Regions from separate parts of the Homo sapiens genome. Here regions 2 and 3 are each linked to region 1. Evidence: fine-mapped expression QTL. A gene starts in region 1. Each other region holds a variant in brackets. All regions are shown on one strand. Distances are between the middles of the regions. Region 1 holds the start of FAM32A (family with sequence similarity 32 member A). Region 2 overlaps CIB3 (calcium and integrin binding family member 3). Region 3 overlaps AP1M1 (adaptor related protein complex 1 subunit mu 1).

Region 1 (8,176 bases):
CGTGACACCCAGCTACTATTTTAGTTTTTGAAGAGACAGGGTATCGCTATGTTGCCCAGGCTAGTCCTGAACTCCTGGGCTCAACTGATCTTCCCACATCGGCCTCCCAAAATGTTGGGATTACAGGCATGAGCCACTGTGCCTGGCTGACTCCACTTGGATTTCTACTGGGGCACTGCATTTACCTTCTTTAAAACTATAGCTTTGGTTCCCCCTCCCTCAACTCCCACTCCAGAAAACCTGCTTTACCTGCAATCCTTCCCACCCCAGTAAACAGCACCTTCATTCATCAAACTGCCCAGCCCAAAGTCTTGGTCATCCTTGACTCTTCTTTCTTTCCCAGCTTACATCCAACCCAACAGCTAACCCTGAATTCATCCTTGAAAACCTATTCCAAACCTGTTACCTTCCACTGGCTCCATCACGACTGCTCTACTCTGAGCTCCCATTATTAGTCTCTTAATAGCTGCCTAAGTCTCGCATAAGTCTCATTCTGGCTTCCAGCAATAAAATCTCAGCCCTGCCTCTGACTACAACCTCAGGGTTAGAAGGGAAAGAAATGCATTTACTTGGCCAGGCATGGTGGTTCACGCCTGTAATCCCAGCACTTTGGGAGGCTGAGGCGGGTGAATCACTTGAGGTCAGGAGAGCGAGACCAGCCTGGCCAACATGGTGAAACCCCGTCTCTACTAAAAATACAAAAATTAGCTGGGCATGGTGGTGGGCGCCTGTAGTCCCAGCTACTCAGGAGGCTAAGGCAGGAGAATCGCTTGAACCCAGGAGGCAGAGGTTGCAGTGAGCTGAGATCATACCAATGCACTCCAGCCTGGACAACAGAGCGAGGCTTTTTCAAAAAATTAAAAAAAGGCCGGGCGTGGTGGCTCACGCCTGTAATCCCAGCAATTTGGGAGGCTGAAGCAGGCGGATCACCTGAGGTCAGGGGTTCAAGAACAGCCTGGCTAACGTGGTGGAACTCCATCTCTACTAAAAATACAAAAAAATTAGATGGGCGTCGTGGCAGGCGCCTGTAATCCCAGCTACTCAGGAGGCTGAGGCAGGAGAATCGCTTGAACCCCGGAGGCGGAGGTTGCAGTGAGCCGAGATCGAGCCACTGCATTCCAGCCTCGGTGACAGAGCCAGACTGAGTCTCACTGAGACGGAGTCTCACTCTGTTGCCAGCCTGGAGTGCAGTGACGTGATCTCGGCTCGCTGCAACCTCTGCCTCCCGGGTACTGGTTCAAGCAATCCTCCTGCCTCAGCCTCCCAAGTAGCTGGGATTACAGGTGTGTGCCACCATGCCCGGCTAATTTTTGTATTTTTAGTAGAGACAGGGTTTCACCATGTTGGCCAGGCTGGTCTTGAACTCCTGACTTCGTGATCCGCCCGCCTGACTTGTTAAATCCTTACCACAACCCTGTGAGGCAGACTTTAGTGCTACTTTAAGTAATAGGTAGCCGGCTTGCCCAGGGTCACACCACTAATTTGTGGTAGAGGCAGAGTCAAACTCAGGTCTGTCATGCCAGAGGTAGTGCATCCATGTGTTTTCTGTATGCCTGAATTAGATCTGGGAGTAAGGAGTTAATTGTCCCCAAGGTCCATTTTCCCCAGTGTCACCGTACAGAATCACCTAGACCAGGGTTAGGGTTTCTCAGCCTCAGTGCTACTGACATTTGGAGCCGGATCACTCTTTGCTGCGGCAGGCTGTCCTGTGTATCGCAGGGTGTGTGGTGTCATCCCTGGCCTCTAGCCACTAGTTGCCAGTAGTCCCCACCCCAACCCAGTTGAGAACCAAAAATGTTTCCAGACATTGCCACATGTGCTTCGGGGTGGGAGTTTAGGGGGGTGGAGACTACCCCCAGGTGAGAATCACTGACCTACACTGATTATTCCCTCTCCCCAGCATAATGGACCCAGTTTCTGTCTTACTGTGAACTCTTCTGTTCTCCACTGCACACATTTATGGTGTTAAGAAAAAATAATTTATCGGAGCCTTATAATACAATACAAACAAAGTCGTCATGGGCATGGCCATTCAATATCAACAGCTGAGACTGGGTGCGGTGGCTCACGCCTGTAATCCCAGCACTTTGGGAAGCTGAGGCGGGCGGATCACTTGAGATCAGAAGTTCGAGATCAGCCTGGCCAACATGGTGAAACCGCATCTCTACGAAAAATACCAAAATTAGCCAGGTGTGGTGGCGGGCGCCTGCAATCCCAGCTACTCGGGAGGCTGAGGCAGGAGAATTGCTTGAACCCCGGAGGCAGAGGCTGCAGTGCTCTGACCCCGCCAAAAATAACTAATTTTTTAAAAAATACAGCATGTTTGAATCTGCCAAACAAAGTTGTCTTGGAAACAAACTTTGTGGTGACTTCGAGCGGCGAGCATGGCCATTTAATATCAAGAGCTGGCATCCACTGAACATGTATGCACTGCTTTTTACTTTCATGACTTCCTCTCAAGTTCCCAACCCTCTTAGAATAAGTTACTACCCTGACTCGTACAGAAGAGGAAACTTGAGGCACGGAAATAAGAAAGTCACTGGCCTAGTGTCGCAGGGCAAATAAGCCACAGCACTGGAATCCAAACCCGGGTCTCCAGCTCTGGCCTCCTTTCAACGCCAGTTCTAGCTCTCCCCTCTGCTGCCCACTCGGGCCAGCGGGGTCTTCTCATCCTTGGAGCTCCCCCGGCAGAGGGCGACTCTTCTCTCACTCACGTACAGCATCCTCTCCCCGTAATTAAGGTCTCCTCTGACCGCTCCCCTGCCCTCGGAGCGTCCCAGCCCTGACCCCAATTTCCAGTCTCCCGGCGCCGGGTGTTCCCGCCTCCCCGCCGCCTTCTGCTTCTGCTCACCCGCTTCTCCTGCATTTTCTCGAAGGCCGCCTGGGCCGGGGTCCGCTTGTCCAGGCCGCGCCGCTTCTCCTCCTCGTTCTTTTTGCTCGTTCCCATTGCTTCCAGGAGTTTCGCTTTGTCTTTGTCCTTCTTTTTCTTCTTCCTGGAAAAAGACATGAGGAGGCGGCGGGTCGGAGGATCAGGGCCAGGGGTCCCGAGAAAAGGTCTAAGGGGGATGAAGACGGAATCCCGCGGGCCCTCGGGCCTCACCGCTTGGTCACTCCCAGCTCTGCGACGCCTTTCAGCTTCAGGGGTCCCTTTTGGACCTGCTCGTAGGCCTCCATGACACTCTCCAGTGCTTCGGTAGCTGGAGTGCCACACTTCCTGTTTGCAAACACTATTTCCGCCCGAATGGCCGCCTCGCTTCTCTTTGATTGGCTGAGCTACAAGGTGAGCATGCGCTCTTGGTTCTGGACCCGGGCCACACTTCCGGGTAGTGGGCGGGACAGAGAGCCAAGCGAATGAGTGCCCTTCGATTCCTATCTGCTGCCACACTTCCGAATTTGGCGCCCACTTCCGGTCTCCCATTCTTCACACAGGGTGCTGGAAACCCAACCCCTTTTTGAGCGTTTTGCGCACTTTTGGGTGACCTGTTCTCTCTCCTTGATTTTTTTTTCTTTTTTAGAGACACGATCTTGGTCTGTCACCTAGGCTGGAGTGGAGTGGCGCGATCGTGGCTCACTGCAGCCTTGAACCCTTGGGCTCAAGAGATCCTCCCGCCTCAGCCTCCCCAGTAGCAGACTGCAGACGGGCGCCACTGAGCGCGGCTAATATTTTCATTTAAATTTTTTTGTCGAGATGGGGTCTCGCTGTGTTGTCCAGGCTGGTCTCGAACTCGTGGGTTCAAGTGATCCTCCTGCTTCGGCCTTCCAAAGCGCAGGGATCACAGGCCTGAGCCACGCCCCACCACCCCCGTTCTCTTTTATTGCCATATTTTGAGCGTTCACTGGATAGCTGAACCTAATTTTGTAAACCTAATCAGTATTCATTAATTTTTCAGCTTTAGGTAAATGACAATATCATGTGACAAGGTTGGTGGTATGTTAAAACAATTAAAAATCTATTTTATGCCGGGCGCGGTGGCTCACGCCTGTAATCCCAGCACTTTGGGAAAACGAGGTGGGCGGATCACGAGGTCAGGAGATGGAGACCATTCTGGCTAACACGGTGAAACCCCGTCTCTACTAAAAATACAAAAAATTACCTGGGCGTGGTGGCGGGCGCCTGTAGTCTCAGCTACTCGGGAGGCTGAGGCAGGAGAATCGCTTGAACCCGGGAGGCGGAGGTTGCAGTGAGCTGAAATCACACCACTGCACTCCAGCCTGGGCGACAGAGAGAGACTCCATCTCAAAAAAAAAGTACATATATATTTAAATCAGCACTTTGGGAGACCAAGGTAGGCGGTTCACGTGAGGTCAGGTGTTGGAAACCAGCGTGGCCAACATGGCGAAACCCTGTATCTACTAAAACAAAACAAAACAAAACACAAAAAGCAAAAATTAGCTGGGCATAGTAGCCTGCGCTTGTAGTCTCAGCTACTTGGTAGGCTGAGGCAGGAGAAGCGCTTGAACCCGGGAGTCGGAGGTTGCAGTGAGCCAAAATCGCACCACTGCACTCCAGCCTGGTCAACAGACAAAGACTCCGTCTCAAAAAAAAAAAAAAAAAAAAAAAATCAATAGAGATAGGGTATTGCTGTGTTGTCCAGGTTGGTCTCAAACTCCTGTCCTCAAGCAGTCCTCCTGAAGCATTAGAATTACAGGCGTGAGCCACCACCCCTGGCCCTTTCTTTCTTTCTTTTCATCCTTTCAGTACTGTGCGGTTTTCTTACATACGATGTGTACATGCATATATCTTTTTTTTTTTTTTTGAGACAGAGTCTCGCTCTGTTGCCCAGGCTGGAATGCAGTGGCACGATTTTGGCTCACTGCAACTTCCACCTCCCAGGTTCAAGAGATTCTCCTGCTTCAGCCTCCTGAGTAGCTGGGATTACAGGCGCCCACCACCATGCCCCGCTAATTTTTGTATTTTTAGTAGAGATAGGGTTTTGCCATGTTGTCCAGGCTGGTTTCGAACTCCTGAACTCAGGTGATCCGCCTGCCTCAGCCTCCCAAAGTGCTGGGATTACAGGCGTGAGCCACCGTGCCCGGCCCTTGAATATATCTTTTTAATGTCAGCAGAGGACTATCGGAATTTTTGGTTTCTTCTCTATTTCCCTCTGTATCAAAAACCTAGTAAAAAAAAAAACTATTATGGGAAAAATTTAAAAAGGCTGTGCCTACCAAGTATCTGTGAAGATGTGTTGAAACTGGAACTCAAACGTGCTGCTGTTGTGAATGTAAAATGGCATAAACAGTTTAGAAATCAGTCTGACAGTTCTTTAAAAGATTAAGCATTCACTTATACTATGACAAAAGAATTAGATTCCTACGTTTTAACCCAAGTGAAATGAAAGTATAGACCCATATAAAATTGTGTAAATGAATGTTCACTGCAGATTTATTTGTAATAGCCAACAAATTAGAAACAGCCCTAATACTGCCCTAGATAAATGAATGAACACAATCCGTGCCCACAAATCTTGGCTGACTTTTGCAACCAATGGAATTACTAGGTCCAAGGTTATGCACGTTTGCACGTTTTATTTCTCATAGATTTTGTCCAAATTGTGCCAGGGTGGCTTTTTTTTTTTAATTGCTGGCGGGGGGTGGGGTAGTGGGGAGAAGGCAAAGGAGGTGGAGAAGAGAGAAGCAAACGTCCCCAAATCTACCGGACACAAGAAAAAGGAGGGCACAGGGGCTGCCTTTCTCAGTCTTACCTGCAGGGGGCAGCAAGTCACTGCCTAATTATCCGTCCACACCTGGAAAAGACTGTGCAGAGGGGCTTCTGGTACCAGGGGATGGGGGCTGCCAGCACTTTTGTGTCAAAAGCAAGGCGATCTTTTTGCCGGGCGCGGTGGCTCACACCTGTAATCCCAGCACTTTGGGAGGCCGAGGCGGGCGGCTCACGAGGTCAGGAGATGGAGACCATCTTGGCCAACATGGTGAAACCCCGTCTCTACTAAAAATAAAAAAAATTAGCCGGGCGTGGTGGCGCGAGCCTGTAATCCCAGCTGCTCAGGAGGCTTGAGGCGGAGAATCACTTGAACCCGGGAGGCGGAGGTTGCAGTGAGCGGAGATCGTGCCACTGCACTCCGCCCTGGCGACAGAGCAAGACTCCGTCTCAAAAAAAAAAAAAAAAAAAAAAAAGAAAAGAAAAAAATTAGCCGGATGTGGCGGGGCACACCTGCGGTCTCAGCTCCTCGGGAGGCTAAGGCAGGAGGATCACTTGAGCCTGGGTGTAGGTGTTCGAGGGTGCAGTGATTTAGGATCTTGATTGATGCACTCTAGCTTGGGCACTAGAGCAAGACCCTATCTCAAAAAAAAAAAAAAAAAAAAAAAGGAAAAGAAAATGATTATGTTGAGTCTTGAATACAAATTAAAAAAAAACTACAAAAAAAGAAAAAGAAATAGTAACGTGCCAATGTTAAATTCTTAGTAGTGCTAAATATGCTGTGGTTGTGTAAGATGTTAACATTAGAGCCGGGCTCAGTGGCTCACACCTGTAATCCCAGCACTTTGGGAGCCGAGGCGGGTGGATCATTTGAAGTCAGGAGTTTGAGACTAGCCTGGCCAACATGATGAAACTGCGCCTCTACTGAAAATACAAAAATTAGCCAGGCGTAGTGACGCACACCTGTAGCCCCAGCTACTGGGTAGGCTGAGGCAGGAGAATCGCTTGAACCCAGGAGGCAGAGGTTGCAGTGAGCCGAGATTTTGCCATTTGCTATTTCACTCCAGCGTGGGTGACACGGTGAGACTACATCTCAAAAATAAATAAATAAATAAATAACAAAAAAAAAAAACCATTAGAGGAAGCAGGTCAAAAGGGTTATGGGAGCTGTCTGTATCATCCTTGCACTTAAATTAAATTAGTTAATTTGTTTATTGAAATGGAGTCTCACTCTGTCACCCAGGCTGGAGTGCAGTGGCACGATCTTGGCTCACTGCAACCTCGACCTCCCAGGTTCAGGCAATTCTCCTGCCTCAGCCCCTGCAGTAGGTGGGATTACACACATGTGCCACCACATCCGGCTATTTTTTTTTTTTTTTTTTGAGACAGAGTCTTGCTCTGTCATCCAGGCCGGAGTGCAGCAGCGCGATCTCGCTTACTACAACCTCTGCCTCCCAGGTTCAAGCGATTCTCCTGCCTCAGCCTCCCGAGTAGCTGGGACTACAGGCACATACCACCACGTATGGCTAATTTTTTGTATTTTTAGTAGAAATGGGGTTTCTCCATGTTGGCCAGGCTGGTCTCGAACTCCTGACCTCAAGTGATCTGCCTGCCTTTGCCTCCCAAAGTTCAGGGATTACAGGTGTGAGCCACTGCGCCCAGCCCATCCTTGCAATTTTAATGTAAATTTAAAATTATTTCAAAACTAAAAGTTTATTAGGAAAAGAAAGAGGCTGGGCATGGTGGCTCATGCCTGTAATCCCAGCACCTTGGGATGCTGAGGCGGGTGGTTCCCCTGAGGTCAGGAGTTCAAGAACAGCTTGGCCAACATGGCGAAACTCTGTGTCTACTGAAAATACAAAAATTAGCCAGGCGTGGTGGCAGGCGCCTGTAATCCCAGCTACTCGGGAGGCTGAGGCAGGAGAATCACCTGAACTTGGGAGGCGGAAGTTGCAGTGAGCCGAGGTCACACTACTGTACTCTAGCCTGAGTGACAGAGCAAGACTGCAAGACTCCATCTCCAAAAAAAAAAAAAGGGAAAAGAAAGAATCTGTAAAGGAATTAAGTGAGGGTGGGGCTTGACTTTCTAGCCAGCTTTGCAATAATGTCAGGCTTGCTGAGTGAGCTCCCACTTCAGGAATGTAGCTAAGCGCATGGGATTCCACACCCCCATTCCTCACATCCTAGGGGATTTTCTTCCTAGCCTCTGCCTCCATTCTGTGAGTTTTGAAGCGGATGCTTTTAATGGGTGTGCATGTATAGGCAATGAGAATGCTCCAACAGTACTTTCGAGATGCATCTTGATTTTGGAGGTATTAAAATGTGAAACAAAATGTGTTTAAATGGAGGGGAAGTAATTTTTTTAATTAAACTTTTAATTTGAAATAATTGAAGGCTCACATGCAGTTTTAAGAAATAAACAGAGGCGAGGCATGGTGGTTCACGTCTGTAATCCCAGCACTTTGGGAGTCTGAAGCGGGCAGATCCCTTGAGCCAAGGAGTTCAACACCAGCCTGG
Region 2 (8,176 bases), 21 kb after region 1:
TTACCCTTGAAGTCTAGGTCAAAAGTAGGCCTCTCCCCATTCATCCCCCCATCCCACCATCCTATTTCTCTTCTAGCACCAGGCAATGCTGCTTAATTTCTTGTTCCTTGACCTGTTCACTTCTTATTGACTTTGTCCCTGAGAAGACTCAAAGGTACCAACAGTATCTATTTTGCTCACCACCTGTCATCTGAGCCTGGCTCAGTAAATATTTGTTGAATGACTGAATGAAAGAAAAACAGTTATCTTAGTGCCTGGCACCTTGTGTGCACTCAATAAATACTTGTTTTTTTTGTGTGTGTGTTTTTTTTTTGTGAGACAAAGTCTTGCTCTGTCCCCCAGACTGGAGTGCAGTGACGCGATCTCAGCTCACTGCAACCTCCGTCTTCCGGGTTCAAGCAGTTCTCCTGCCTCAGCCTGCTGAGTAGCTGAGATTGATTACAGGTGCCTGCCACAACGCCTGACTAATTTTTTGTATTTTTAGTAGAGACGGAGTTTCACCATGTTGGCCAGACTGGTCTCGAACTCCTGACCTCAGGTGATCCACCCGCCTCAGCCTCCCAAAGTGCTGGGATTACAGGCATGAACCACCACGCCCAGCCAAATTTTTGTATTTTTAGTAAAGATGGGGTTTCACCATGTTGGCCAGGCTGGTCTTGAACTCCTAACCTCAAGTGATCCACCCACCTCGGCTTCCCAAAGTGGCAGGATTACAGGCATGAGCCACCGTGCCCTGCCACCATAATACTTTTTGAGTGAGTACATGAAAAATAGTTATCATGGTGCCCAACACATAGTAGGTGCTCAATAAATACTTGTTGCATGAATGAATGAATGAAAAAGTTATCAGAGTACCTGGCACACAGTAGACACTAATACTTGTTGAGTGAGTGAATAAAAGAGTTATGGTGCCCAACATGTAGTAGGTGCTCAATAAATACTTCCTGAATGGATGAATGAATGAATGAATAAATGAAAAAGTTATTACAGTGCCTGGTGCACAGTAAGCAGTTAAAAAGTACTTTTTGAGTGAATAGATGAAAAAAGTTATCACAGTGCCCACTACACAGTAGGCACTCAATAAATACTTGTTGAGTGAGTGAATAAATGAAAAACAGATATCATGGTGCTTGATACGTAGTACGTGTTCAAGAAATACTTGAATAAATGAATGAAAGAGCTGTCACAGTGTTTGGCACATAGTAGGCACTCAATAACTATTTTTATTTATTTATTTTTTTACTGAGACAGCGTCTCACTCTTGTCGCCCAGGCTGGAGTGCAATGGCGCGATCTCAGATCACTGCAACTTCCACTCCCTGGGTTCAAGCGATTCTCCTGCCTCAGCCTACCTAGTAGCTGGGATTACAGGCACCCGCACCACGCCCCGCTAATTTTTGTAATTTTAGTAGAGATGGGGTTTCACCATGTTGGCCAGGCTGGCCTGGAACTCCTGACCTTAGGTGATCTACCCATCTCCACCTCCCAAAGTGCTGGGATTACAGGCATGAGCCACTGCGCCGGGCCCATAACTGTTTTTTGAATGAGTAAATGAAAAATTATTATCACAGTGCCAGGACACAGTAGGCACTCAATAAATACTTGTTAAGTGAGTGAATGAATGAAAATTGCACTCAATAAATACTTGTTGAGTGAGTGAGTGAATGAAAATCAGTTACTGTGATGCCTGACACATAGTAGATGCTCAATAAATACTTGTATGAGTGAATAAAAAAGTTATTACAGTGCCTAGCACACAGCAGGCACTCAATGCTTGTAAAAATGAATGAATGAGGTTGGGTGTGGTGGCTTCCACCTGTAATCCTAGCACTTTGGGAGACCGAGGTGGGTGGATCACCTGAGGTCAGGAATTTGAGACCAGCCTGGCCAACATGGGGAATCCCATCTCTACTAAAAACACAAAAATTAGCCGGGCATGGTGGCAGGCACCTGTAATCCCAGCTACTTGGGAGGCTGAGGCAGGAGAATCACTTGAACCCAGGAGGTGGAGGTTGCAGTGAGCCGAGATCGTGCCACTGCACTCCAGCCTGGGCGACAGAGCGAGACTCCGTCTCAAAGAAAAAAAAAAAGAACGAATGAAAAATTCATTGCATAAATACTTGTTGAATGAATGAATGAACTCCCAGCAGGTCCCTGCCCAATTTTAAGGCAAGTTCCAGATTTTACACCAGGGTCTCGGGTGCCCTCCCAGGGCCTCAGTTCCTTTTTTTTTTTTTTTTTTTTGGACGGAGTTTCTGTCTTGCTGCCCAGGCTGGAGTGCAGTGGTGAGATCTTGGCTCACTGCAACCTCCACCTCCCGGGCTCAAGTGATTCTCCTGCCTCAGCCTCCTGAATAGCTGGGATTACAGGTGCATGCCACCACACCTGGGTATTTTTGTATTTTTAGTAGAGATGGGATTTCACCATGTTGGCCAGGCTGGTCTCGAACTCCTGACCTCAGGTGTTCCACCCTCCTCAGCCTCCCAAAGTGTTGGGATTACAGGCGTGAGCCACCGTGCCCGACCTTAGTTTCCCCTTCTTGTAACATGGGCACAGTATGTGCCCACAGCCGGCCTAGCCCTCCTGCCACCTGCTGTCACTCCCCATCCATCCTGCTCTGCAGATTTTAACAACGACGACTACATTTGTGCGTGGGACCTGGAGCAGACGGTGACCAAACTGACGCGGGGGGGGCTGAGTGCCGAGGAGGTGAGCCTGGTATGTGAGAAGGTGCTGGATGAGGCTGATGGAGACCATGATGGGCGGCTGTCCCTGGAAGATTTCCAGAACATGATCCTCCGGGCACCAGACTTCCTCAGGTGATGCTCTCCGTCACCGCCCACAGTCCATTTGCACATCTGAAGGGGCTCTTACGCAGACAGTTCACAGACTCTGTTTCTGAAAATTCCTCTATTCATTCTTTCATGACCTTGGGAAACTTTCTCAATTTCCCTAGTCTCAGTCCCTGCATCTGTAAAATGGGGATAATTAGGGACCCCCTGGGCACCTCTTGCGAGTGGATACACCTCTTTCAGCAAGCAGAATGTGGCTGGACTTCAGCCCTTGTTGCCTGAACAGTTTGCAGTGAACAGACTGTGTAACTGTACTTGGCAGCCTTTGGGGAAAATCAGCCGCCACTGCAGGGCAAAGTACGGCCAATAGGCCAGTCTGACCCAAAGCCTGGTTTTGTACCTCCTGTGAGCTAAGAATGGCTTTTATATTTTCAAAAGATCAAAAAACAATCAAAGAATAATAATATTCCAACCAGGTGGGGTGGTTCATGCCTTTAATCCCAGCACTTTGGGAGGCTAAGTGGGGAGGATCTCTTGACCCCAGGAGCTTGAGACCAAA[C/T]TGGGGAACATAAGGAGAGTCCATATCTACAAATAAATAAATAAATAAATAGCCAGGTATGGTGGTGCATGCCTGTAGTCCCAGCTACTTGGGAGGCTGAGGCGGGAGGATTGCTTGAGCCCAGGAGGTCAAGGCCGCAGTGAGCTCAGATTGTGCCATGCACTCCAGCCTGGGTCACAGAGTGAGATTCTGTCTCAAAAATAAATAAACACATTAAAAATTTTTTTTTAATTTAAAAAAAGATTATTCCATGACACGTGACAGTGATACGAAATTCACTTTTCTGTGTCCATCAGTAAAGTTGTATTGGCTCACAGCCACACCCATTTGTGTACATTTTGTCTATGGCTGCTTGTGTGCTTCAACAACAGAGTTGCGTCATGGTATAAAGTTGAAAACATCAACTATTTGGCCATTTACAGAAAAAGGTTTGCTGAACCCCAAATTAATATATGGAGAAAATTCAGCACAGCTCCTGGCACACAATAGGTGTTTAATAAATTGCTGTTGCTATTATTATCTTATAATTTTTAAATTTCACTTTATTTTTTATTTTTTGAATTGACAAATAATGATTGTACATATTCATGGGGTACACAGTGATGTTTCTTTTTGTTTGTTTGTTTGTTTTGAGACGGAGTCTTGCTCTGTTGCCCAGGCTGGAGTGCAGTGGTGCAATCTCAGCTCACTGCAACTTCCACCTCCTGGGTTCAAGTGATTCTCCTGCCTCAGCCTCCCGAGTAGCTGGGATTACAGGCACGTGCCACCATGCCCAGCTAATTTTTGTATTTTTAGTAGAGACAGGGTTTTGTCATGTTGGCCAGGCTGGTCTTGAACTCCTGACCTCAAGTGATTCACCTACTGTGGCCTCCCAGACTGCTGGGAGTACAAGCGTGAGCCACCACGCCCAGCCCGTTTGTTTGTTTTGAGACAGGGTCTCACTCAGTGACCCAGACTGCAGTGCATGGTGCAATCGGCTCACTGCAGCCTCTAACTCCTCGGCTCAAGAGATCCTCCCACCTCAGCTTCCTAAGTAGCTGGGACTACGGGGCCGAGCGCAGTGGCTCACACCTGTAATCCCAGCATTTTAGGAGGCTGAGGCAGTAGTCTCTACTAAAAATACAAAAATTAGCCTGGGCATGGTGGGGCACACCTCTAGTCCCAGCTACTCGGGAGGCTGAGGCAGGAGAGTAACTTGAACCCGAACCTGGGAGGTGGAGGTTTGCAGTGAGCCACGATTGCGCCACTGTACTCCAGCTTGAGCGAGACTCTGTCTCAAAAAAAAAAAAAAAAAAAAAAGAAAAGAAAAGAAAAAAGAAATAAAATAAGAATAAACCAAGTAGCTGGGACTACAGGTACGTGCCACTGTGCCTGGCTAATTTTGTTTGTTTTATTTTATTAATTAATTAATTTATTTTATTTTATTTTTTTGAGATGGAGTCTCGCTCTGTCACCCAGGATGGAGTGCAGTGGCACGATCTCGGCTCACAGCAACCTCCACCTCGCAGGTTCAAGCACTTCTCCCTGCCTCAGCCTCCCGAGTATCTGGAATTACAGGCGCCCGCCACCACGCCCGGTTAATTTTTGTATTTTTTTAGTAGAGATAAGGTTTCGCCATGTTGGCCAGGCTGGTCTTGAACTCCTGACCTCAGGTGATCTGTCCATCTTGGCCTCCCAAAGTGCTGGGATTACAGGCGTGAGCCGTCATGCCCGGCCTGTTTTTGTTTTTATCTATAAGCTGAGGCAGTGCTGAAAATGTTGAGACAGGGTCTCACTTTGTTGCCCAGGCTGGAGTGCAGTGGCACAATCATAGCTCACTGCAGCCTCTACCTCCTGGGCTCAAGAGCAATCCTCCCACCTCAGCCTCCTGAGTAGCTGGGAGTACGGGCACACACCACCACGCCTAGCTAACTAAAAACTTTTTTTTTTTTTTTTTTTTTTTGTGGAGACAAGGTCTTGCCTTGTTGCCCAGGCTGTTCTCAAACTCCTGGCCTCAACTGATCCTCCTGCCTTGGCCTCCCAAAGTCCTGAGATTACAGGGGTGAGTCACTGCACCAGGCCACATAATGGTTTCGATACATATAATGTATGATGAGCAGATCAGGGTCATTAGCATATCCATCATCTCAAACATGTATCATTTATTTGTGTTGAGAACATTCAGTATCCTTCTTCTAGCTATTTGAAACTTTATATCATATGGCAGGATGTGGTGATTCATGCCTGTAATCCTAGCACTTTGGGAAGCTAAGGTGGGTGGATCGCTTGAGCACAGGAGTTCCAGACCAGCCTGGGCAACAAAGCAAGTTGAGAAACTCCGTTTCTACTGAAAATAGAAAAATTAACTGGGCGTGGTATCATGCACCTGTAATCCTAGCTACTCGGGAGGCTGAGGCATGAGAATCACTTGAACCCAGGAGGCAGAGGTTGCAGTGAGCCAAGATCACACCACTGCACTACAGCCTGGGAGACAGAGCAAGACCCCATCTCAAAAAAAAAAAAAAAAAAAAAAGAATTAAAAAATTAAAGGCATGTGCTCTCAGCCCCTGTAGGGGTCTCCCGGCCTAGGGTTGTTTGAGGGGTCCATGTGGCATCCTTCCTGCCTGTCCCAGGGACTTGCCGTGAGCGTGTTGAGGGGGAGGAGGAAAAGGGGTTGTCCACTCCTTGAAGGCCTTGACTCCTTTTCTCTCTGCACACAGCACCTTCCACATCCGAATCTGATGGCACCACAGAGGAGCCGAGCTATAGGAGGGCGGGGTGACCCCTCACCCGCTGTGGACTCTGGTTTCTGAGAATAAACACAAGTCACTGAGTCACACCTGCTGGGAGGACACATTTTTCCACCTTAAAACTGGAAGATGGGAGGGAGGCGGCGTAGAATTTTATCTTTGACTTTGCTGTGTGACCCTGAGTGTGGCCACACCCTCTCTGGGCCACGATCTCCCTGTTTGTACAAGGAAGGGGTGACTCCTAGATCGTCTTCACTGTGAAGGCTGGAAATGCCTTGTTGTGGGTGTCCGTGGCGGAGGTGAGGTGGTGGGGAGATCGGGCCCGTGCTGTCCTACCCCAGGGTTCCCACTCTGAAGGCCAAACCTCACCCTTCACTACTCAAGTTTCTTTTTATCCCTCAAACCCTGAGTCATCAAAGGGATTGAAACTTTTCCTCCCGGGCTGACTCATTAGAGCTGCCAAGAGGAGACCACTGATTGGGAGGGGTGGAAATGTCATTCACTGAGGTGGCTGCTGCACTTTACAGTTTATGATGCATCTGCCCCCTAACGTGACACTGACCCCCTATAACATCCCTGCAGAGTTGGCCGAGGATCATGCCCTCATTTGGAGGGAGCAGAGTGACTTGCCTAAGGCCACCCCACAAGTCATTTGCAGGGGCGGGCTTGAACCCAGGTGCACCTCATACCAGATCCCAGATGTCTGAACCTTGTACATTTGGGGAACCCCACACCCCCTCCACCTGGGGTTGCCCCAGGGCCCCCATCTATGCCCCAGTCAGTCCAAGGAGTAGTCACTCCTGCAACCAAGACCAGCCCCTAGGGACCTTCCCAGACACCTCCATTGTACAGTATGTCATGTCTAGAGAGCTCACTCCCATCTTAACCCGCTAATAAATTAAGCAGCTACTGGGCTGGGCACGGTGGCTCAAGCCTGTAACCCCAGCATTTGGGAGGCCAAGGTGGGCAGATTGTCTGAGCCCAAGAATTTGAGACCAGCCTCAGCAACGTGGTGAAACCCTGTCTCTACCAAAAATACAAAAATTAGCTGGGTGTGGTGGTGCATGCCTGTAGTCCCAGCTACTTGGGAGGCTGAGGTGGGAGGATCGCTTGAGCCCAGGAAAGGGAAGTTGTAGTGACCAGAGATCGTGCTACTGCACTCCAGCCTGGGCAATAGAGCGAGACTCTGTCCAAAAAAAAAAAAAAAAAGGAGCCAGGCACAGTGGCTCACGCCTGTAATCCCAACACTTTGGGAGGCTGAGGCGGGTAGATCGCCTGAGCCCAGCAATTCGAGACCAGCCTGGGCAGCATGGTGAAACCCTGTCTCTACCAAAAATACAAAAAGTAACTGGATGTGGTGGTGCATTCCTGTAGTCCCAGCTACTCAGGAGGCTGAGGCAGGAGAATCAATTGAACCAGGAGGCAGAGGTTGCAGTGGACCGAGGTCGAACCACTGCACTCCAGCCTGGGCGACAGACCAAAACTCCTCCGTCTCAAAGAAAAAGAAAAAAAAAGAAAAACACCTACTGTGCACCAAAGTCCCAGGTTTTACATGCATTCTGCCAGTTCATCCTGAAGAGGGACTGCTCTTCTCATTTTCCAGGTAAGAAAGTAGGCCCAGAGATGTCTAGACTTGCCAAAGGTCACACAGCCCCACAACCTAGGATTCCCTCCAGAGCCCTCCACCATCATGGCCCTGTGATGCCTCCTCCGTCCCCAGCCTTTTTTTTTTTTGAGATGGAGTCTTGCTCTGTCACCCAGTCTGGAGTCTTGCTCTGTCACCCAGGCTGGAGTGCAGTGGCTTGGTCTTGGCTCACTGCAACCTCCGCCTCCCAGGTTCAAGCGATTCTCCTGCCTCAGTCTCCTGAGTAGCTGGGATTACAGGCGCAAGCCACCATGCCTGGCTAATTTTTGTAGTTTTTAGTAGAGACGGGGTTTCACCATGTTGGCCAGGCTGGTTTTGAACTCCTGACCTCAGGTGATCCACCTGCCTTGGCCTCCCAAAGTGCTGGGATTAGAGGTGTGAGCCACTGCGTCCGGCCAGCTTTTTCTTTCTTTTTTTTTTTTTTCTTTTCTGAGACAAGGTCTCTCTCTGTT
Region 3 (8,176 bases), 48 kb before region 1:
CTCAGGCAGAGAGAGGACACAGTGCTTATTCTCAGGGGTGGAGGGCAAATGTTTTTTCTAGTCCATCTTTTTACTGTTAAGTATCATGACCCTCGAGGATCCCAGCTTCACGCAGGAGTCATCTCCACTGCATTTCACCATCTTCCCGATGCCCAAAGTCCTATCTGCCACCTGGCCCCCAAACCTAAACCCGGTGGTTTCCAAGAGCAACTCCGGTGTGAGCCCCCACGGTGTCTTCCGCGTCTACTTCCTTCGTCTTGGGCTCCTGTGGGTCTCCTTGCTTTTTTATGGGCACGGCTAGGTGCGTCTGCTTCATTTCCTGCATTTCTACAGTCTGTAGTGGAGGGTTTGCAGGTCTTATCTGATAAGTTGCTGGAAACTGAAGTCTCTCTTCTGTCCTGTGGACCAGCCCTCTCCTGTCCCTGCGGTGTCCCAGCATGGGGGCTCCACAGGGTGGGGACAGTGACAGCCCACACTGGAGCTAGGCCCCGGGGGTGGCAGCGAGGATGGCAAATGGGGTCAGCCCCAGGGTTTTCTGGAGGGGCCATGAGGGCTGGCTGCTGATATGGGTGTGGACAGTGAGGGGAGGGGCCCCAGGGATGCCTTCAGGGCTTTGGTCTGAGGCCTGGGCTGGGGCAGCGTCATTGACTGAGATGGGGAAGACCTACGTGGGCGGAAGGTTCTACTCAGGCTGTTAGGTCGGATGCCCACTAGACACCTGAGGACGAGCTCGGCAAGACAGGAGAGGGAGGGGGAGAATGAAGGCAAGAGGGTGCTGGCCAGGCAGGGCCATCAGCACTGGTCGGGGAGGGGGCCAAGAGCAGGCAGCACTTCCTGCATATGTGCTATTTCCCCCATGGACCAAGTAGCAGTTCACAGAAGAAGCATCTGGGGGCCTTGTTAATGTTTTCCGGGACCCTGGCCCCAGAGCCTCCACTTTGGCAGGTCAGGGCTGGCCCACGAACCTGCATTTCTAGCTAGGACACAGGGGATGCTGCTGTGGACACAAGGACCATGCTCTGAGTGGGCCATCAGTTTGGGGAGAGGTGGGGACAAGCTGTTGGCCATCTGAGGGTGCAGCAGATTGGATGAGAGAAGACTCTGCCTCTGTGGCCTCCTCTGTGTGGCCCAGGAGTGGTGGCCCATGGTCCAGCACTGCAGCTGCCTCTTCCCGCAGCTGCTTTTCCTGTGTTTCAGCTGGGGAAGCAGAGGGAGCTGGTGACACCTCGTGGGGCCACAGGGAAGGTCGGCGACAAAACCAGGCAAGCCCTGTGGTCACGCAGGAGGAGTTGGGACCACGCTGCATCAGAGGAAGGCTGTGGAGTATTCAATGAATGGAATTTAATGTAACTATGACATAAACACACACAGGGTGGGGAGGACGGGTGACCAAGCGCAGACGTGGGTGACACGTGGCCCCGCTCTCTGGACCCTCAGTGGGAAAAAGTCTGAGGCTGGCGTCTCTCACCAAACCCCACCTCCCCTGGTGGGTCAATACTGATCTGGCTGAGTGACAGCATCTCGTGACCCAGGCTGGCCCTGGGAAGGCGCCACAGGCGAGGCCTGCGAGTCCAGGGAGCAGGCAGACGCTACAGTGGCCCCCGAGCGCGCCAGGTGCCAGCCTCGACGTGTAAATGGCCCGCTGCGGGCGCTGCCGGGAAGGAAGACAAGAAGGGTGAGGGCTCGTCCTCACCAAGTGCTTCCTGAGTGCCGTAGGACGTGGGTGGGACATGGGGACAGTGAGGGTAACACAAACAGCAACGAATGCACAAAGACAAGTTCCAGGAACACCCATAAACCCATAACGTTCAACAAAATGGCAACAAAACGACGCCCCTGCTGGCCTGGCGAGGCTGGCGCTTCCTTCGTGGCAGATGCCACCTGCAGCTGGCTGGCTGGCAAGCGTTGGCCAAGCTTTTTGGTACCTGGGAGCTCAACAGCATAAAAGGCTGTAACCTCTACACGGAAAAATTTCACATCCTTCCCCTGAAACTGACTTCAGGGGCAAAGAAACGAGACTTCTTGAAGACCAGCCTCTTCTGGGAAAGGGGCTTCTGAGACGAGTGTCGACGGCAGAGCAGATGGCCTGGGGAAGGCAGGGGTCCCTGGGCAGAGGCTGGGAGGGTGGCCAGAGACCAGGGAGGGCCCCTCCATCTGGTGGGTTTGGCAGGTGTGTCCCCTGGTGCTGCCACCAGGAGCCCCGAGGCCGGGGTGTTGGCTGCGACAGCCCCTCACTGGGTCCGGAGCTGGTAATCTAGGAGACAGGAGGGAGGCGTCATGCTGGGCTCTGCACCCTCCCTGCTTTCGGGACCCGACCCGATGGCTCCACCCTGGGGGCAGCCACAGAGGACCCCTCAGTACAACCCCACCCCACGGGTAGGGCCTCACTCACCTCCATTCTGCGTGATATAACGCACCCAGGGCAGGGCCTGGTACCCACTCTTCTCAATGATCTTCAGGTAGCGCACCTGGGGCACAGGTAGCAGGGCCCTGAGCACCGCAGGCTCCCGCCCTGTTGGTCCCCCCTTAATCTTTCCTGCTGGGGCAGCCTGGGGCTGGCAGGGGAGGCCATGACGACAGGATGAGCACAGGCCTCAGGGGGGTGAAAGGGATTTGTCTGGACCATGCAAATGTGTGGGAGGGCAGAGCCGCCTCTGGAAGTGGTGAGCAGCCAGGATGTGGCTTGCAGACACGGCCTCAGCAGCCTGCTTGGGGGGCCCGGCCAGAAGGCCCCTGGCTCTCTGGGAGCCTCTCCTCCCTCTGTGGGCTTTTGAGGGGGTGCCAGGGAAAAGAGGTCCCATGGGGCATGAGTGGACGGCAGAGCCTCAAATGCTAGTTTGGGGCAGAATGAGTGAGCTTTGAGCTCAGGGGTCAGGGCTGAGCAGAGGCAGCCTGGCCTCACCCTGTCTGTGGGGAGGCAGAGGCCCACAGCACAGCAGGGTCCTGATTGCAGCTGACTGACACCCTTTCCCAAGCTGGCTGCATTGATATCTGTCACCTGCGGCCTCTGTCCCTGTTCTGGGCCCCGGCCGCCTGGGCCTTACGTACCTGGATGCCGGAGGTAGTGAAGTAAGGGATCTCGAACTTGACACTGATCGGGGGCTTGCCCTCCTTGTCTTCGGCCTCCACACTAGGCAGGCCGAAGTGGGCCCGCATCAGGTACTCCTTGCCGCCCTGGGGAGCAGACGGGGGAGGCGCTCAGGCCTAGGCCCTGCCCCAGCTTAGCCAACAGCTCTGGCCCTAGTGGCGATGGGCAGAGACTGACCACTCACCCCAGTCCAGGGAGGGGAGCATGAGCCCCTGTGCTGGGGAGCCAAAGCTCGGCCCTGTGCTGCCCCAGGCTGGTAAGGACAGCCCCTGCTCTGGGGTGCCCAGCTGCCCCATGAGGATACCCAGGCGCCCAGAGCTGAGCTCACCAAGCTGCCAGCCCCAGTCACCAAGCCCCTGCCAGTGTGGTCTGCAGTGGCCCAGCACCCCCCGCCCAGCTCCCCTAATGCACTTTCCTCCAAGGCTGGTGAACTAGACAGACCGGCCATGGGAAGGAAGAGTGTGTAATGACCGTGGCAGGGGAGGGCTGCTGGGGACAGGGGCCACACGCCCAGTCTCAGAACAGCATGTGAAAGAAAAGAGAGTGTCCAGGTGAGAACCATGACCAGGGAGAGG[C/T]GACAAAAGGAAGAAACCAAGGAGCATGCACTGAGTGACGATTCAGCCCTGGGTCCTGCTCCTGAGGGTGAGCAGGGGGTGGCTGTGGCTCTGACTGGAACCCGAGTCCTGGCTGTGACCTTCACCCTCTCTCTGCCTTGAGGAGCAACAGGTTGCAGCCTGGTCACCCCCAGCGCCTGGTCTCGCCCTGAGCAGTCGGGGGCACGATCTCAGCTCTGGCTGTGCCTGGGACCCCACAGTCTCTGCTCCCCAGGGCTCAGGCCGAGGTTCCGTGGGAGCTACTGCCGCCTAGGGCTGTTTCTGCCTCACAGCAGGGGCGGTCCCCGTGCACCTGGGGCAGGGCCGAGTGGTTCATCTCTGCCTACTGCCACCAGGGCAGCGTGAGAGTGAGGACTCTGCCTGACTTGGTGACATGTGCTGAGTACAGACTCCAGGAGGATGACGGGGGGAAGATGCGACATCAGCAACTGGTAAAGCAGGCAGCGAGGGAACAAACCCGCTCGGTGACTAGCCTGTGCCCCAAACACTCAGCCAGACCCCAAATCTGAACCTTAGCAAAGACCAAATGGAAAACACAAACAAAGAAAATGCAGGGAAGCAGACGCCAGGGGCGATGGAGGCCTGCACACCCAGCCTGTGTCGTCACGTTGAGCCGAGTGGGTTTAATTCTGCTCTCGATGAGAGCTGTAGGCTGGCGCCGGCTCACACACCAAAACCCACTCGACGCCACAAAGGCACAGTGAGAAGGGCTCCCCGGGTAGGAAGAACAGGCATTGACAGGCGTGCTGCCAAAGGCAGACAAAAGAGGACAGGGCTGCCATCATCACAAGGGAGAAAGGTGCACAGGAGGACAGGCCACAATCCTAGAGGCTGCCGTCCCATAAGCCACAGGGACAACACAATAGTCACAGGTACCCACGCATGAAGTAACATGGCAGCAACTTCTGTGAAGCAGGTGCTATAGGAGATGCAGAGAGAGCCAGGAGAAGGCCTGGACGCAAGGCCCGGCCCAGATCTCCATCCAGGTGGACAGTGTCATGTGCCATGGCCACCCATGGGCACATATCAAATTCCCTAACCTGGTAACAGACAGCAGTAGGGACAGGACTGAGAAACACTCTAGGTTTAAAAGCAAATAGCCTACACTATGGCACTTCCACAAAAAGTTGAAAATAGAATCACCATATGATCCAGCAATTCCACTTCTGGGGATACACCCAAAACAAATGGAAGCTGGATCTTGAAGAGGTATTTGTGCACTCGTTCACAGCAGCATTATTCACAATAGGCCAGGCATGGTGGCTCACGCCTGTCATCCCAGTGCTTTGGGAGGCCGAAGCAGGCAGATCACCTGAGACCAGCCTGAGCAACAATAGCGAAACCCTGTTTCTACTAAAAATACACAAATTAGCTGGGTGTGGTGGCATGTGCCTGTAATCTTAGCTACTTGGGAGGCTGAGGCAGGAGAATCGCTTGAACCCGGGAGGTGGAGTTGCAGCAAGCCGAGATCATGCCTCTGCAGTAAGCCGAGATCGTGCCTCTGCACTCCAGCCTGGGCAACAGAGTGAGACTTCATCTCAGAAACAAAAAAAACTAACCTAAAAAAAAAAAAACTTTTAGTATGGAGCAATCTAAGAAAGGGGGAAGGATATCTATCTATCTATCTAATCTGTATTTCTAATCTCTCTCTGTGTTTTTTTTTTTTTTTTTTTTTTTGAGACAGAGTCTTGCTCTGTTGCCCAGGCTGGAGTGCAGTGGTGCAATCTTGGCTCACTGCAAGCTCCGCCTCCCGAGTTCACACCATTCTCCCACCTCAGCCTCCCGAGTAGCTGGGACTACAGGCACCCACCACCACACCCGGCTAATTTTTTGTATTTTTAGTAGAGACGGGGTTTCACCATGTTAGCCAGGATGGTCTTGATCTCCTGACCTTGTGATCCGCCCGCCTCAGCCTCCGAAAGTGCTGGGATTACAGGCGTGAGCCACAGCGCCTGGCCCTCTCTGTATTTCTTAAAATTTATTTTTTGCAGTTCCTTTTGTCCTTAGGGTGTGTTATTTGAAGTGACGTGTCTCTGTGGTTGTCATCAACTTGATACGCTGATGAATTAATTTTGCTTTTGGTTTTTAGGAATTACCTTTTTTCCATTGTGATTTAATTTTGTTTTCTATGCATGGGAAGCACTGACAGGTGTACCTTCACACAGTGCAGGTTTGGTTCCAGACCACTGCCATAAAGCACATAGCACAGTTAGGCAAGTCACACACATTTTTTGGTTTCCCAGTGCATGTAAAAGTTACGTTTACCAGCCGGGCACGGTGGCCCACACCTGTAATCTCAGCACTTTGGGAGGCTGAGTCAGGCGGATCACAAGGTCAGGAGTTCGTCACCAGCTTGGCCAACATGGTGAAACCCCGTCTCTATTAAAAATACAAAAATTAGCCAGGCGTGGTGACACATGCCTGTAATCCCAGCTGCTCAGGACGCTGAGGCAGGAGAATCACTTGAACCTGGGAGGCACAGGTTGCAGTGAGCCGAGATTGTGCCACTGCACTCCAGCCTAGGCGACAGAGCGAGACTCCGTCTCAAAAAAAAAAAAAAGGTTACCGTATACTGTAGTCTGAATGTGCAACAGTATTATGTCTAGGAGAATGTACATACCTTAGTTAAAACATACTTTATTGCTAAAAAGTGACAACACAGAGACCACATGCTGTTGGAATAATGACATCAACAGACTTGCTCAACGCAGGGTTGCCACAAACCTTCCATTTGTTTAAAAACTAAAACAAAAATAAAAATGCAGTATCTGGGAAGCACAATAAAATGAGGTGTGCCTGTGCATGGCTTCGAAGTAAAATCTACACAAGCACAGTCCACGCCAGCCTGTGTCTCGGCCCTTAGCCCTGTCCCTTCCTCCCCCGTCTACAGCTCACCATGCTGTTTATTTGATGAAGTATTCTCCCAGTGTGTTTTAAATGATAAACACTATTTTCAACAGTGGAATTGCAGGAAAAGAGGAGCTAATCCAACTATCCGGGATGGTCACCACCCCTCCATGGAATATCCACAGCTCCCAAAGGTGACCGCCAAGAAGACAGTCAATACCAGAAGGAAAACGCTCTGCCGCAGCGCCACGTGGAAGGGCAGGCACTGAGCTGGCTCTACTTGCACATAATGAGGAAAAGCAAAATACGCAGAAAGAAAGGTGAGGAGACACGCGGAAAGGCTGACGGGAGTATTAGGTGGTGGGGTAACTGGCTTTTCTCTCTCCTTCCTCTACTTTCTGTATTTTATGTCATGTGATTAGACTGAGGCTGGGAGGGAAAGTACCATCATGAAATTCAAGGCACTTGAATTGCAGCATTTCCAGCTTAACTCAGCTGGGGCTGTCCCCAAGTCCCCCTGGGATGCAGATGGAGAGAGAGGGGAGAACATGGAAAGCAGCGCCTGCCCTGAGCCCCCCTGGTGGAGCAGGTCAGTGCCACCCGGCTCAGCTCCAGAGCCATGCCTGGGCCTAGCCTCTCTGTGCACTGTGTACACCCGGCAAGCCCAGACTCAGCTCCTCAGAATCCTTAACATGTTGTCAGGGAAGCCACGCCGATGCAGAGCTGGCCCAGGACATGGGCGGCTGGTGCGGAGCTCTGGAGGCTGTGCTGCTCCGGCCTACAGGCAGCCGTTCCCCTTGATGGCAGGCAAGGCTGAGCCTGCACAGAAAGGGCCTTGGACCTGCCAGTGTGGACGGGGCTCCTTCAGGGCCTGCATGGACAGGAGCCCCATCTCACATCAGTACTCAGGGGCATCACAGAGAGGGAGGGAGAGGGCACTGCCCTGAGGTGAAGACAGAGGCTGGTTCACAAACAAGAGGAAGGCAGAAAGGGGCCCAGGGGCCGAGTCAGCCTCTGCTTCCTCCCACTCCAGTCCTCAGCTCTCCGTCCACCCTTTCAGAAGCCCCAGGTGTGGAAGACACAGTGGCCACTGTCACCCCATCTTGAGGTGCAGGGGGTCCTGAGGCACCCAGGCTGCCTTGCAGAGACAGGCGCAGGGGGCACGTGGATGTCTGGACAGAGTGCTCACCGGGAAGGACTTGATGGACCACACGATCTCGCTGTTCTCGGGGACCCACTTAACGCTCCCCACCGTCGTCTTGAACTTGGGTGAGTCGGCATCATTGGGCACGGGAATGTGGATCTCCACGTTGTTGGCTGTTGACCGCCGCTTGAACTGGCTTTTGGCCTGCAGGCCAGGCCAATGCGGCCCGGGGTTATGGAGGCCAAGGTGAGCTGGCCAGCCTCTCCAGGACACATGCCCCTCAGCCTGGCCCGGGGGATCCTCCCTAGCCCCGCCCCTGGCCCCACTTCTCCAGGCACTACCCACCCCTTCTCCTGCCCTCGAGACTCTCCCAAGACCTAATTTCAGGAGTTTCATCTTCATCCTCCTGTCTGCTCAGCTTCCAAGGCTCCTCATCCCTCCCTCTGCCCTGCCCTCCTAGGACAATGTCTATGTCCCAGGGCC

The links. PIP is the estimated chance that this variant, and not a neighbour inherited with it, causes the effect.
Region 2: its variant is the best candidate, but not a certain one, in a credible set for the expression of FAM32A in whole blood (INTERVAL, PIP 0.54).
Region 3: its variant is the best candidate, but not a certain one, in a credible set for the expression of FAM32A in adrenal gland (GTEx, PIP 0.69).

What each region holds. Positions count from the first base shown.
Region 1 is chr19:16,180,441-16,188,616 of GRCh38, reverse strand. It overlaps FAM32A (family with sequence similarity 32 member A), which reads right to left and starts at 3,207. Exons shown (of 4, transcript NM_014077.4): 1 at 3,101-3,207; 2 at 2,852-2,993. The coding sequence starts at 3,174. RefSeq lists enhancers at 3,613-3,662, 3,565-4,200, 5,424-5,923.
Region 2 is chr19:16,159,360-16,167,535 of GRCh38, reverse strand. It overlaps CIB3 (calcium and integrin binding family member 3), which reads left to right. Exons shown (of 6, transcript NM_054113.4): 5 at 2,623-2,818; 6 at 6,050-6,168. The coding sequence ends at 6,071. Among named protein-coding and RNA genes, the nearest start is that of CIB3, 10 kb to the left of the region's middle. RefSeq lists an enhancer at 7,169-7,258. The variant C/T (reference allele first, on the strand shown) is at 3,351.
Region 3 is chr19:16,228,491-16,236,666 of GRCh38, reverse strand. It overlaps AP1M1 (adaptor related protein complex 1 subunit mu 1), which reads right to left. Exons shown (of 12, transcript NM_032493.4): 9 at 7,739-7,897; 10 at 3,049-3,174; 11 at 2,393-2,468; 12 at 1-2,254. The coding sequence ends at 2,232. Among named protein-coding and RNA genes, the nearest start is that of AP1M1, 35 kb to the right of the region's middle. The variant C/T (reference allele first, on the strand shown) is at 3,664.